2 separate regions of the Homo sapiens genome follow, and region 2 is reported to be linked to region 1. The links are microRNA targets in miRTarBase. Many come from high-throughput screens and were not tested one by one. Region 1 holds a microRNA gene; the other region holds the end of a gene's coding sequence.

Evidence for each region. The annotated mature microRNA hsa-miR-502-3p reads AAUGCACCUGGGCAAGGAUUCA and lies in region 1 at 3,862-3,883, shown strand. An mRNA with a match to its seed (bases 2 to 7 or 8) in the 3' UTR can be bound and repressed. Matches are read on the target gene's strand: a 7mer-m8 pairs with bases 2 to 8, a 7mer-A1 pairs with bases 2 to 7 and ends in A, and an 8mer does both.
Region 2: the mRNA of COMMD4 is a reported target of hsa-miR-502-3p. The part of its 3' UTR that is shown has no 7-base or 8-base seed match.

Annotation. Positions count from the first base shown.
Region 1 is chrX:50,010,788-50,018,140 of GRCh38, forward strand. MIR502 (microRNA 502) reads left to right here and starts at 3,811; the gene lies at 3,811-3,896. The region is part of intron 3 of CLCN5 (chloride voltage-gated channel 5); the gene reads left to right. It overlaps MIR660 (microRNA 660), which reads left to right and starts at 2,454; the gene lies at 2,454-2,550.
Region 2 is chr15:75,339,482-75,346,834 of GRCh38, reverse strand. COMMD4 (COMM domain containing 4) reads right to left here. Exons shown (of 8, transcript NM_017828.5): 7 at 6,957-7,133; 8 at 6,562-6,870. The coding sequence ends at 6,830. Among named protein-coding and RNA genes, the nearest start is that of NEIL1, 3.9 kb to the left of the region's middle. RefSeq lists an enhancer at 1-44.

The sequences.
Region 1 (7,353 bases):
TCCTTCCATCCTTTCTATGACTATTTGTTGAGTACCTACCTACTCTATTGCAGGTGCTGTCCTGGGCAGTTGGCCCACAAGAGAATGAGCCATATCTGGTTCCCTACCTTCATGGAGTGTACAGTTCAGGGAGGAGAATGGACTCCTTCTCATTCATTATATCTGCATGTCCTGAGGGTGGGTGGGGTACAGGGTGGGTGGGGTACAGATACATGTTGGAGAATCTACTAAACCTCAGTACAATCACACATAAATACGCTGTGTGCAAGAGAAAGGGCCTGACTTGGTTACATCCACAGAGACATGTCCTCACAGAGTGGTCCCTCTGACCTGGTGCATCACTCACATTCTTTCAGCCTGTGTGCCAGTACTGCCTTGACTCACTGTCCCTTTTCAAGAATTCCAAGGGAAGAAGCCTTGTCTACACTTAAAAGGACAGAGCTTTTGCACATCAACTCTCCCTCCTCTTCCTTCCACAGATACTCAAGTGTCTATTAGACAGCAGGTATTATGTTCATCACCAAGGATATAGCAGGGATCAAAATGGACAGGTTGCTACCCTACATTCTGGTAGGGACTCATAAACACACTATACATAAATGTTGTGGATGAATAGGCCACTGTTCAAAAGAATGAAGTAGATCTATATGTTCCTTGTTACCCAGTCTGCATGCACAAGCATGTGCAGGTTCTGCTCAAGTGAAATTCTCAAATGTCCCCAATCCTTGTACACCAGACACACTCAGAGACATGGCCCTGCATGCAGAGAACCCCACCTACTGAAAGGGTAGGAGATGGAGCCTGTTGTGCTCTCCTCTCTCCCATTCTCAGCGTGCAAGCCAGTGAGCTTCCTTAACTCCCTTATAGATGGGGATTAAATGAGGGAAGTCTTCTTACTGCTACTTTCCTTCTTGCTGCTCTGTATAGGAGAGATCCTTTCATTACTTTTCTGTACAGTCACAGATGAACACACTATATGCGGTGAGCCTTCCCTGTAAACCCATGTGAGCACATGTGCACACACGCACACGTGCACACACACATACTCTGTATGGCTGCTTGGGCCTTCAGTCCTGTTCCCCCTCTTGAATCCTGGTACCTGGATGCAAGTGCTGTGTCAATGCGGTGCACCCAGGCAAGCATTCCACGGCTGAGCCTTTTCTGCATAGAGCGAAGAACACCTGTTTATAATCCCCATCCTTCATTCATTCCCACCTTTAACAAGCAGGGGTGGCGCTCCTGTCATGCACCAGACATGGAGAGACAGGGTGGTCAAGAAAGACACAGAACTCATACTCACATGCCTAGTGAGCATGTTTAAGAGAAGGAACTTCCGTTGCCCACATTGTTCATGCATACGTATGTAGCAGAGAGTGAGTCTTCCCATCATCCCCTCTCCAACCCCCCAACAGTGCTCAGCTAGAGAACTACAAAAGGTGTGTCTCCCCTTACACAGAGCTGCAGCCACAGTGTGCATAGGATAATGAGTGTCATTAGCAGCATCTTCTCACTCATGTCTGGTGTGCAAGGCAATAGGCTTTCTACTTGCTGCTTATGCCACCAGAGCTTGAAGGAAAGTGGCCCTACTTGTCAGTCATCTCACACATGCATATGAAGAAAAGACACTTCACCTTTGTATGGTCATAGGAAAATCACCTGTGAGCCAGAGAGTGCTGTTTCTTTTGTACATACACACAAACACAATGGATTTGAAGATGCTCGAGCCTTCTATTCAGGTTGTCCCTCTCTTTCATTCTTCGTAGTTGGGTACAAATGCTATTCCAGTCCATTGCCTTGTACAAAAATTCAGAGAGGGAATCTCATCCATGTTTAAAAGTGTAGAGTCTTTGCATCACCCCTCTATGTCCCATTATTTCATTTCTTTAAGTTATGTATAGAGCAGTGGTTCTCAGTGTGGTCCCTGGGCCAGCAGCATCTGTATCACCTAGGAGCTTGTTCAAAATGCCAATTCTTGGGCTCATCCCTGACCTACTACACCATAAACCATGGAAATCTGTACTTTACCAAGGCTCTCAACTGATTCTGATGCTCACTTAAGTTTGAGAATCACTGATTTAGTATAAGTGCTAGCTAGGGGCAGTGATAAGCTAGTCAGGTGAAGGGTGGAAGAGAATGAGCTCCTGCATTGCTCATGTACGTTCCCAATGCCGAGTCCATGCAGACTGTGGCAGGGAAGCCATCATTTCATTACTGTCTCCACCTCCTCCATAACCACACATTCAGTGAGCACATGAGGCTAAGTGAACACACAACAAGTACTTTATTAGGGAATAGACTTGGCACTGCTTCTCCAGGCGTGCACCTGACACTTTAATCTCAATCTGTCTCTCTCTCAATCAATCAATCAATCTCTCTCCTCTCTCTCTCTTTCTCTCTTTCTGTCTTTCTTTCTCTCTCCTCCCCCACCCCCCTCCCATGTGCAGAAGAATGAACTGCTCCTTCTCCCATACCCATTGCATATCGGAGTTGTGAATTCTCAAAACACCTCCTGTGTGCATGGATTACAGGAGGGTGAGCCTTGTCATCGTGAATCTTCTGCTGAACAATCCAAGTAGCCCGTGTTTATTGCGCACTTTTGATGTGCCATGAGCTGTGCTGGGAGTACCCTGCTAAATAATGGACAGTGTCTCTCTCCGGGACTTCCTATCTAGTGGAGGTATTAGGTGCCTAGACTTCCCCAGGCCTAGGCAACAGACACAGGTGTGTCAGGAATTGAGCCTTCTCATTCTCTTATGAATACACATGCTCACATTGTGCATGCATGTGCACACACACATGTGTAAGTGTAGAAACATTTCTGTACAAAGCTGAAAGGAAGGAGCCTTATTATCTAAACTTGCCTGCAAGTTTCCTTGCCACACACACTCAGATGCATGCCTGGTGTGCAGGTGCCTGGACTTTGATTTTTGCTTGCCCTCTCCTAGCCTTGCAGCCTAGGCACAAGTGCTGTCTTAGCAGTGCAATGGGCTTGTGCAAGGATACCAGCTTGTGAGCCTTGCCTATGTGTAGGACAGAGCCTGTCCATCCCTTCTCTTTCCTTTGTTCATTCTTTCAGTCAGTCATTTGTGTGTGCATGTTTTTGGTCCATTCATTTATTCATCCCTTTAACAAATTTACTGAATTCCTGCTGTTTGGGAATGCCACAGTAAACTAACCTGTCAGAGATGCCGACCTTACTGTCTAGCAGGCTCATGGAGAATAAGCATCCTCATGTCATCCAACTTCCTGTGAATACATGGGCTCAGGGTGCCAGAAATCAGGCTTTTCTTTATTCCCTCCCACAGACATGGGTACCTGTGCAAATATATGTGGTGTGCACATCCTGAGCCTGCTGCTCTGCTTCCCCTTGTATCCTTGCCACCTAAATGTGCATGCTGTCTCAGTGCAGCACCTATTCCAGGACTCTCAGAGGGGCCTTTTTCTGCCCATAGACAGACAAAGTGCCTGTGAGTCACACTTCCTCCTCCCTCTCCTTCCCCTCTACCTCCCTTTCACAAGTATTGAGCACTTAGTACATGCTAACGCTGTGCTGCCAGGGCAGTGGGCATATGGTATCACACAAGATGGACTTGGTTCTTGCCTCAAAGAATATGTGTAGGAGACTTGACTTTTTGTCACCTAATATTCCTGCACGTGCTGAGTTAGTGTGGGCCACAACATGGGACTTCTTATTGACACCCTCTCCCAACATATACACAATGCAAGACTCTCATTCCTGTTCTCACACAGAGCTGTGTAACAGAGAACCTTCTCTGCTTCGAGCACGGCAGGTGCCCAAGCCTTCTGCCCTGCTCCCCCTCTCTAATCCTTGCTATCTGGGTGCTAGTGCTGGCTCAATGCAATGCACCTGGGCAAGGATTCAGAGAGGGGGAGCTCAACTGTACCAAGAAGGACAGAGAGCCTAGACATCACCCCTCCCACCCTCCCCTGTCATAGTTTTTGAGTGATGGGTGTGTGTTGGGGAAGCACAGAACAGAATAGTTAGGGACTTCAGGTGCTCTGGTGGGCTTGTCTGTGTATTAGAATAAATGTCCTTATTAAATAATGTCCATGTATGCAGGTATCCAGAGTGAGACAGTGAGCTTTCTCTGTGTTCCCCACCTGCTGTCCACACACAGGGTGGTGGGCGGGAACCAGAGCCTTCTGATTTGCTCCCTCACTTCCTTCCAACCTAGATGTGAGTGCTGTCTCAAGTATTAAGCCAAGGATTCAATGAGATGGAGCCTTGCCTACCTATATGTATATATATGGACTGAGTGCATATATGTCTCTTTTCTTGCCTTCCTATATCTTGAGTTTCTAGAGTGTGACAGATACTCTTTTTAGTGTTAAGGATGCAGTGACAAACGAGAGTCAAAATCACTGGATGTGCTCTCTGATGGGCAGCTTTAGAAGAAAAATTCAGACGGGCACAAATGATGGGGGCCAAAGAGAGAGTCTTCCTATTCCCCCCACTCTGTCCCCTCTGAGGACAGGGAGATGCACACATTCATGAAGATTTACACTTACAGAATGTATAGGAGTTTGAGCTTATAAGCTGCCCTTTATCTTCCAGGACATCCTGAGTAGAACTGTGAGCTGCCTTTAGATGTCTATTACAGACTCTTCTTGAATTAGAGGGGGTGAAGAGCAAGGGACCCTTCTTATTGCTGATCTTGTATGCACCCCACACAATATGGAAATGAGAACAGCCTATATCTTTATATTACCTTACTTTAGTCAAATAGAGATGGACTATACATGTCTCTGTTTCAGTCTATCGCTCTCTCTGTCCGTCTCTCCATCTCTCTCTCTCTCTCACCTAGGGAGTACAGGTGCCCATGATCTGATTCACTCCCCTCCTCCCATCCTTAGCGCCTGAGCCTGAGTGCTTTCTACTGTGACCTCAGCAGTATTCTTCAGTTGTTACTCTCTTCTTAGCTAAGCTGATCTATTCATTCCTCCCCATCTTATCATTTTTGCTCATTGCCCATTGCAAATTTATAGTGTTCAGGTCAGCGTAGCAATACAGTATTATAAATAGTGGTGACAGAGACAGAAAGAGACACACACTCCATTTCAGTCCTCAAGTTCTTAAACATTTGGGACTTATAGATTCTGATCCTTGGTCCTTCTTCTCTCCCAGATTCTCCCAATCTAACCTGCAGTAAAGATTCAGGTTATTTAATATGTGCTCCTTATCTTTTGTATACTCTAAAATCTCATTTTGGTTACTGCTCAGCCTTAGTCTTATTTTATCAGACTTTATACCTCTCTTGATGCCCAAGACTAGCAGCATCAGCATCCTCCAGGAACTTGTTAGAAATAAACTCTCAGGCCTCACCTCAGACCTAGGTAATCAGAAAGTCAGGGGTGGGGCCCAGCAATCTGTGTTTTAACAGCCCTCCAGGTGATTCTGATGCACACTGAAGTTTGAGAACCATTGGTTTAAATGACTTAAAATTTCTATTCTGTCATTACTAGGGGGATTTCTGTGTTACACAGGATGATTTTTAGCATCAAAATTTCCTTATGTGTAAATGGCTCTTTTAGTTTCTTTTCATATTTTAAAAATTCATAGACTTTTTTGAGCAGTTTTAGGTTTACAAAAAGATTGAATGGAAAGTATAGAGTTGTTATATATTCTCGAGACACCCCAGTTTCCGCTATTAACATCTTGCATGAGTGTTGTACACTTGTTAAAATTGATGGGCTAATGTTGAGACATTATTATTAAATAATAGTATAATTATAATGTATTATAACTATTATTAAATAATAGTTTAAATATAATTATTAATGTAAACCATAGTTTACATTAGAGTTCCCTCTTTGTGTTATATACTCTATGGGTTTTGACAAGTGTATAATGACATGCATGACCATTATAGTATCATACAGAATAGTTTCACTGCCCTAAAATTCCTCTGAGTTCTGCCTATTTATCCCCCCTCCCCCACCCTAAACCCCTGGCAACCGCTGATCATTTTTCTGTCTCCATAGTTTAGCCTTTTCCAGAATGTCATATAGTTAGAATCATACATTATGCAGCCTTTTCAGAATGGCTTATTTTACTTAGCACTATGCATTTAAGGCTCCTCATATCTTTTCATGACTTGATAGCTCATTTCTTTTCTTTCATTTTTTTCCCCATTTATCCCATATAGTAACCAGCTTATTTCTTTTTATCACTGCATAGTATTCCATTGTCTGGAGGCACAAAGTTTATTTATCCTCACCCACTGAAGGGCAGCTTGGTTCCTTCTACATTTTGGCAATTATGAATAAAGCTGCTATAAACGTTTGTGTGCAGGATCTTGTATGGACATAAGTTCTCAACTCACTTAAGTAAAATACCAGGAAGTGTTGCTGGATCATATGGTAAGACTATGTTTAATTTTGTAAGAAACCACCAAACTGTCCTCCAAAGTGGCTGTACCATTTTACATTTCCATCAGCAGTGAACGAGAGTTCCTGTTACTCCATATCCTCATCAACATTTGGTTTTGTTAGTGTTTTGGATTTTAGGCATTCTAATAGGAATGTTTTCTTATCCTTGAGCTTAAAGAGTTTCTTACTTATTTTAGATACAATCCCTTTCTAAGATATGTCTTTTGCAAATATTTTTCCCATGTGTGATTTGCTTTTACATTCAATTAACAGTGGCTTTTGCAGAGCAGAAGTTTTTAATTATAATGAAGTCCAGTCTATCAATTTTTTCTTTCATGGATCATGCTTTTGGTGTTGTATCTAAAAGGTCACCACCAAACCTAAGATCACTTAGATTTTAGCCTACATTATTTTCTAGGAGTTTTATAGTTCTGTGTTTTACATTTAGGTCAGTCATCTATTTTGAGTTAATTTTTGTGAAAGTTGAAGACCTACCTCTAGATTCATTTTTTTTTTTGCATGTTCATGTCCAGTTGTTTCAGTACCATTTATTGAAAAGAATATATTTGTGTCATTGTATTGCCTTTGCTCATTTGTCAAAGATCCATTGACTATATTTTTGTGGGTATATTTCTGGATTTGTTCTGTTCTATTGATCTATATTCTTATGCCATTATTACACTGTCTTGATTATTGTAGCTTTATAGTAAGCCTTGAAGTTGGATAGTGTCAGTCTTCCAGGTTTGTTCTTCTCTTTCAAAATTGTGTTGGCTATTCTGGGTCATTTGTCTCTCTGGCTAAACTTTAGAATCAGTTTGTTGATACCCACAAAATAACTTGCTGGAATTTTGATTGGAACTGCACTGAACCTGTAGATCAAGTTGGGAAAAACTTACTTCTTGACAATATTGAGTCTTCCTATCCAAGTTCATGGAATATCTATTTATTTAGATCTTTGATTTG
Region 2 (7,353 bases), not on the chromosome of region 1:
ACCTAACCCATCGCCACGATTTCCCCTCCTTCACACTACCCTGCTACGTCTCCTTATTAGGCGTAATAAAATTATGTGGCTTTGTAAGAAATTGGTTTTTAGAGATGCATGTTAAAGTATTGGGTATGAAATGTCATGATTTGTCTAATTTACTTTAAAATACTTCTGCCATAATAAATGAATAGAATTAACAACTTGATATTAGTTGACAATATCTAATAATATCTAAGTTATTAGAAATTAGTTAACAGTAACTTCTTTTTTTGAGACAGGGTCTCACTGTGTCACCCAGGCTGGAGTGCGGTGGTGAAATCTCGGCTCACTGCAGCCTCCACTTCCCGGGTTCAAGTGATTCTCCTGCCTCAGCCTCCCGAGTAACTGGGATTACAGGCGTGTGCCACATGCCTGGCTAATTTTCATATTTTTAGTAGAGATGAGGTTTCGCCTTGTTGGCCAGGCTGGTCTTGAACTCCTGACCTCAAGTAATCTGCCCGCCTCGGCCTCCCAAAGTGCTGGGATTACAGAAGTGAGCCACCATGCCCAGCCAACAGTAACTTCTTAATATCATCTAATAGCTAGTCCACATCCAGATTTCCCCAATTGTCCCAAATATATATATATATACACATATAGACAGGGTCTCACTCTGTCCCCCAGGCTACAATCATGGGTCATTGCAGCCTCCGACCTCCCGGGCTCAAGTGATCCTCAGCCTCAGCCTCCCAAGTAGCTGGGACTACAGGCACACACCACCACGCCTGGCTAATTCATGTTTTGTAAGGATGTGGTCTCACTATGTTGCCTGGGCCAGCCTCAAACTCCTGGGCTCAAGCCATCCCCCGACCTCGGGGTCCCAAAGTGTTGGGATTACAGGCGTGAGCCACCGCGCCTGGCTGGATTATATCTTTTTAATAATTTTAAATCTAGATGAAACCACCTTCCCTCTCCCACCCACTTCATCCCCTTCTTTTATCTTCATGATACCTTTCTGAAGAGTCTCAGCCAGTTGTTGTTTGAGATAGATGCTGCATCACATTCTCAATTTGTCTGAATGTATCCTCAGGGTGTCACTGATATTGTCACAGAGATTGGTCCTCTATCTGTGGTTCATCCTGCATGCTGGGAATTAGATCTAAAGGCTTGATTATATAAATATTCAGGGATACTTCCTAGGTGCTGCTCTGTACTTCGTTGTTTTTTGTTTTGTTTTGTTTTATTTGAGATGGAGTCTTGCTCTGTCACCCAGACTGGAGTGCAGTGGCACGATCTTGGCTCACTGCAACCTCTGCCTCCCAGGTTCAAGTGATTCTCTTGCCTCAGCCTCCTGAGTAGCTGAGACTACAGGCATATGCCACCACTCCCAGCTGATTTTTGTATTTTTAGTAGAGACGGGGTTTCACCATGTTGGCCAGGCTGGTCTCAAACTCCTGACCTCAGGTGATCTGCCTGCCTCGGCCTCCCAAAGTGCTGGGATTACAGGGATAAGCCACTACGCCTGGCCACTGCTCTGTACTTTGAATTGCATCATATCAGGAGGCACCCAATATCTCATTGTCCCACTTTATTGGGAGCTGAAACTGATCAAGACAGGGGCTGTGGCAGCCAGACCTCTGCATTAGAAAACATATGGTTCATACCTTGTGAACACCAAATAATCTATGGAGTAATTTCTTTGTTGTTCTCTTGTTTAAATAAAGGTATAATTTACATATAGTAAAATTTACCCCTTTCAGACTGCAATATTTGACAAACACATAGTCATGTAACTGCCACCCCAATGAAGAGATAACACACATTGAAGCATTATTCCCAAGATGTGGAAACAACCAACCGATACATGGATTTTTTAAAATGTGATATATAATAGGCTGGGCATGGTGGCTCATGCATGTAATCTCAGCCCTTTGGGAGGCCAAGACAGGAGGACTGCTTGAGCCCACGAGTTCAAGACCAGCCTGGTCAACATAGGGAGATTCCATCTCTATATAAGAAAAGAATTAGCATAGTGGTATGCATCTGTAGTCCCAGCTACTCCAGAGGCTGTGGTTGGAGGACTGCTTGAGCCTGGGAGTCAGAGGCTACAGTGAACTGTGATCATGCTGCTGCACTCTAGCCTGGATGACAGAGTGAAACCTTATCCCCATCCCTGCCCCCCTAAAAAAAATGTGGTATATGATGGAATATTATTCAGCCTTTAAAAAAAGGAAATACTGCCACATGCAACAACATGGGTAACCTCGAAGACATTGCACTAAATAAGTTGGTCACAGAAGGACAAATACTTAGGCTGGACACAGTGGCTCACGCTTATAATCCCGACACTTTGGGAGGCCAAGGCGGGTGGATCACGAGGTCAGGAGATCGAGATCATCCTGGCCAACATGGTGAAACCCCGTCTCTAATAAAAATACAAAAATTATCCAGGTGTGGTGGCGGGCACCTGTAGTCCCAGCTACTTGGGAGGCTGAGGCAGGAGAATTGCTTGCACCCAGGAGGCAGAGGTTGCAGTGAGCTGAGATCGTGCCACTGCACTCCAGCCTGGCAACAGAGCGAGACTCTGTCTCATAAAACAAACAAGCAAAAAAACCCCAGAAAGACAAATACTTCATGGTTCCACTTATATCAGGTACCTAAACAGTTAAACACACAGAAGCAGCAAGTAGAATGGTGGTTGCCAGGAGCTGCCGGGAAGGAGGAAATGGGTAGTTGCTATTCAATGAATATAAAGTTTTGGGTTTTTGGCCAGGCGCAGTGGCTGATGCCTGAAATCCCAACACTATGGGAGGCCGAGGGGGGAGTGAATCACTTGAGGCCAGGAGTTCAAGACCAGCCTGGCCAACATGGTGAAACCCCGTCTTTACTAAAAATACGAAAGTTCGCTTTGAGATCCTGTCTCAAAAGAAAATAAAGTTTTAGGTTTTTATTGTTGTTTTTGAGACAGGTCTCACTCTGTTGCCCAGGCTAGAGAACGATGGTGCAATCTCGGCTCACTGCAGCCTCGACCTCCCAGTAGCTGGGATTACAGGTGGGGGCCACCATGCCTAATTTTTTGTATTTTTAGTAGAGACAGGGTTTTACCACGTTGCCAAGACTAGTCTCAAACTCCTGACCTCAAGCGATCCACCTGCCTTGGCCTCCCAGAGTATTGGGATTACAGGCGTGAGCCACCGTGTCCAGCCTCAAAGTGATTTTCTAATTGTCATTCTTAATATATTTGATAGAATCCATCTGTCAAGTATAGCTTTACCTCATTGACCAGGGCTATTTGGTTATCCTGACTAAAAAGACAGGATAACCTCTTTTTTATTTTTTTTGAGACAGGATCTCACTCTGTCACTCAAGGCTGGAGTGCAGTGGTATGATCATGGTTCACTGCAACCTCGAACTCCTGAGCTCAGGTGATCCTCCAACGTCAGCCTCCTGAGTAGCTGGGACAATGGTGCATACCACCACACCTAATTTTTGTATTTTTTTGTAGAGATGGGGTTTTGCCATGTTGCCAAGGATAGTCTCCTTGTGATTTTTTTATCACTTTGTTTATTCCCAGTTTTCATTTTTGCTTCTTCTTGCCCAACTGTGGCTGGTGGAGCATTTTTTAGAATACCAGTTTGACTTATCTATAGTTTTATTTTTAATTGACAAATAATAATTGTATAAATTTATGGAGTACAGTGTGATGTTTTGTTACATGCATATATTGTGGAATGATCAAATCGGCTGGGCACGGTGGCTCATGCCTGTAATCCCAGCACTGTGGGAGGCCGAGGCAGACGGATCACCTGAGGTCAGAAGTTTAAAACCAGCCTGGCCAACATAGTGAAACCCAGTCTCTACAAAAAATACAAAAAATTAGCCAGGGGTGGTGGTGCATGCCTGTAGTCCCAGCTACTACAGAGGCTGAGGCAGGAGAATCACTTGAACTCGGGAGGCGGAGGTTGCAGTGAGCCAAGATCACGCCACTGCACTCCAGCCTAGGCAACAGAGTGAGACTCTGTCTCAAGAAAACAAAAAACACAAAAAAAGATCAAATCAGGCTAATTAGGATATCCATTACCTCAAATATTTATTTCTTTGTGATGAGAACATTTAAAACCCTCTTTTAGCTATTTTGAAGTATACATCATTATTAACTGGTCACCACGCTGGGCAATAAATCACCAGAATGTACTCCTCCTAACTGGAACTTTGTACCTTTTGACCGGTGTCTCCCCTTTTCCCCACAACCCACCCTCTCTCTCCTCCAGCCTCTGCTAACCACCATTCTACTGTCGACTTCTATGAATTTAACTTTTTTTTTTTGAGACAGGGTCTCACTGTCACCCAGGCTGGAGTGCAGGGGCACTATCATGGTTCACTGCAGCCTTGACCGCCCTGGCTCAAGCAATCCTCCCACCTCAACCTCCCAAGTGCTGGAACCACAGGCATGTGCCACTGCACCCGGCTAATTTTTTTACTTTTTGTAGAGACAGGTTTGCCATGTTGCCCAGCCTGGTCTCGAACTCCTGGGCTTAAGTGATCCTCCCACCTTGGCTTCCCAAAGTGCTGGGATTACAGGCGTGAGCCACTGCCCCAGGCCCTTTTTTCAACTCCAGGCATAAGTGAGGTGACGAGGTATTTGTCTCTCTGTGCCTGGCTTATTTCACTTAGCATCATGTCGTCTAGGTTCATCCAAGTCACAAATGACAGAACCTTCTGCTTTTTAAGGGCTGAAAAATATTCCAATGTGTGTATATATACATTTTTTTTTTTTTTTTTTTTTTTTTTTTGAGACAGGGTCTCAGCTCTGTTATCCAGGCTGGAGTGCAGAGGTATGATCACAGCTCACTGCAGCCTCAAACCCCTGGGCTCAAGCGATTGATCCTCCTGCCTCAGCCTTCTGAGTAGCTGAGACTATAAGCACGCACCACCATGATCGGCTAATTTTTTATTTTTTTGGAGAAACTGAGTCTCCCTGTGTTGCTCAGGCCAGTTGCAAGGTCTAAAGCAATTGTCCCACCTCCCAAAGTGCTGGGATTACAGGCATGGGCCACTGCACCTGGCCTTTAGTGATTATTTTTTTGAATACTTTTTCCATTCCACTCTCTTCCTCCTTACCTTCTGAGACCCTAATCATGAATGTTAGCACTTTTGTATAGTTCTACAGATCTGTGATGATCAGTTTTGTGTAACCTGACTGGGCCATGGGGTCCAGATTCCAGGAATTTCTCTCTGTGGAGCCTCAGGTCCTGAGGATCCCAGCCAGGCTAGGGTGCCTTCTCTCCATCGCTCGGAGTCTTTTTGTTTGTTTTATATGTAACATCCAGGGTTGTTAACTGTACTTAGTGGGAGGAATAGGGAAAACACCTACTTCATTTTTTCAGAAGCAGAAGTCAGGAGTGGAGTCAGTAAGTATCTCTTTTGATGTTCAAATTGTCCCATCTTTGGCCAGTGGAACAAGCCATTATTCTTCGATAGGTTCCTTAAGATACTCCAGGCGAGTCCTCCTTGTACCCTCCATGTGCCAACCCTGGCATCAGCCTTTTCTACAAGGAGCCCTGGCTGGTCTGGGCCAGTCCTGGAAGCCCATCTGCCTTAGTCTTCTCGAGCTGCTATAACAATGCCACAGACTAGTGGCTTACACCATAGAGATTTCTTTCTCACAGTTCTGGAGGCTGGGAAGTTCAAGATCAAGGTGCCAGCAGACGCAGTTCCTGTTGACAGCCCTCTTTCTGGCCTTGTAGACAGCCACCTCGTGTGCGCACATGGCCCTCATCTGGTGTGCATGTGTGGACAGAGGCTTCAGCATATGAATTCTGGAGGAACATGAACATTCAGTCCATAACACCGTTCCTCTTGCCAATGACTGGTTCAGGCATGGTCACTTCTCTCTTCCTAAAGATGATGGCAGTGGCTGGGCGCAGTGGCTTACGCCTGTAATCCCAGCACTTTGGGAGGGCAAGGTGGGTGGATCACCTGAGGTCAGGAGTTCGAGACCAGCCTGACCAACATGGAGAAACCTCATCTCTACTGAAAAAAAAAAAAAAAAACAAAATTAGCCGGGAGTAGTGGGGCATGCCTGTAATCCCACCTACTCGGGCAGCTGAGGCAGAAGAATTGCTTGAACCCAGGAGGCAGAGGTTGTGGTGAGCCAAGATCACGCCACTGTACCATCTCAAAATAAATAAATAACAAGATGGCAGTGAAACCTGGGCAAGAGGAGCGAAACTCCGTCTCTAAATAAATAAATAAATAAATAGAAGATGGCAGTGAAACAAGGGCAATCTCCTTTCTGTACAAGGGGCATTTGGCTTTGGGGCCACCAACGTGCTGCTAGCCTGAGGACATGGCCAGGGGGCAAAGACAGCAGAGCCAAGAGCATCCCAGATCTGGGAGCTAGAACCCTGATTTTCTTCTCACCAGACAAGCAGATGCATTTTGGTCCTCAGTTGGCCTTACCTATGACCTCCCTCAATCAGCAATTGAGAAAAGAAAATGAGTGATGGACCAAGAAGGCCTGTATGTCACTTGTGTTTCTCTCACAAAAACCCTTGATCTGAACCCAAACAGAACCCCCTGCACACATTCCTTTATACTTCTGTTTATTTTTCCTGCTTATGAAAACAGCCAACAATTGCCTTTCAAGGGAAGGGAAGGTAATGCTGGGAAAGGTCCTCAGGAGCCCTGAGCCAAGTTCTCAAGAGAGAAGTGAGGCAGCTGGGGATCTGGGAGGCCAGAGTCCGGGCCAGGGCCTCAGCATCCTAGAACCAGGGCTGCCTCCCGAAGAGCAGTTCAGAGGGCGTGACTCCATACGGGCAGGGCGGCTCCACACAGGCCTGGAACACCCTTCTCCTCAGCCCAGGGAGCTCATCAGGGTCTGGGCCTGCTTCAGTTCTGCAGAGGGAAGAGGTGGGCAGGTGGGAGGCAGTCAGGCGGATCTGGGAGAGCCTCTCACCCGTCGAGGAATAGCTGAGCCTCACCTGCCAGGAGGACCTGGAACTTGTCTGCTGAGAGGGACATGGCAACAGGCTGGGCTGGGGTCCCTGGGGCAGCTGCCACCTCCAGCCGCAGGTGCACCATGGGCTCTTCCACGGATTGCAGCAGGCTGGAGCTCAGGGTGTAGTCCACCCGCCAGCCCACACCTGCCAACCTATTCACTGTGAGATGGGGTGGGTGGCTCTCAGGATCAAAGCAGGCAAGCCAAGTAGACCTCAGCCGACACCCTGGCTCAGCTCTCAACCATTCAAGGCTATGTGGCCTCTAAGAAGCTCCCATCCTGCTGACCCAGGCTCAGAACAGGGCAGGTGCCCGATAATCAGTTCTGATCACCCACAGCAGACCTCAGTGACAAGAAACCTTGTGGGGAGTCAGGAGACC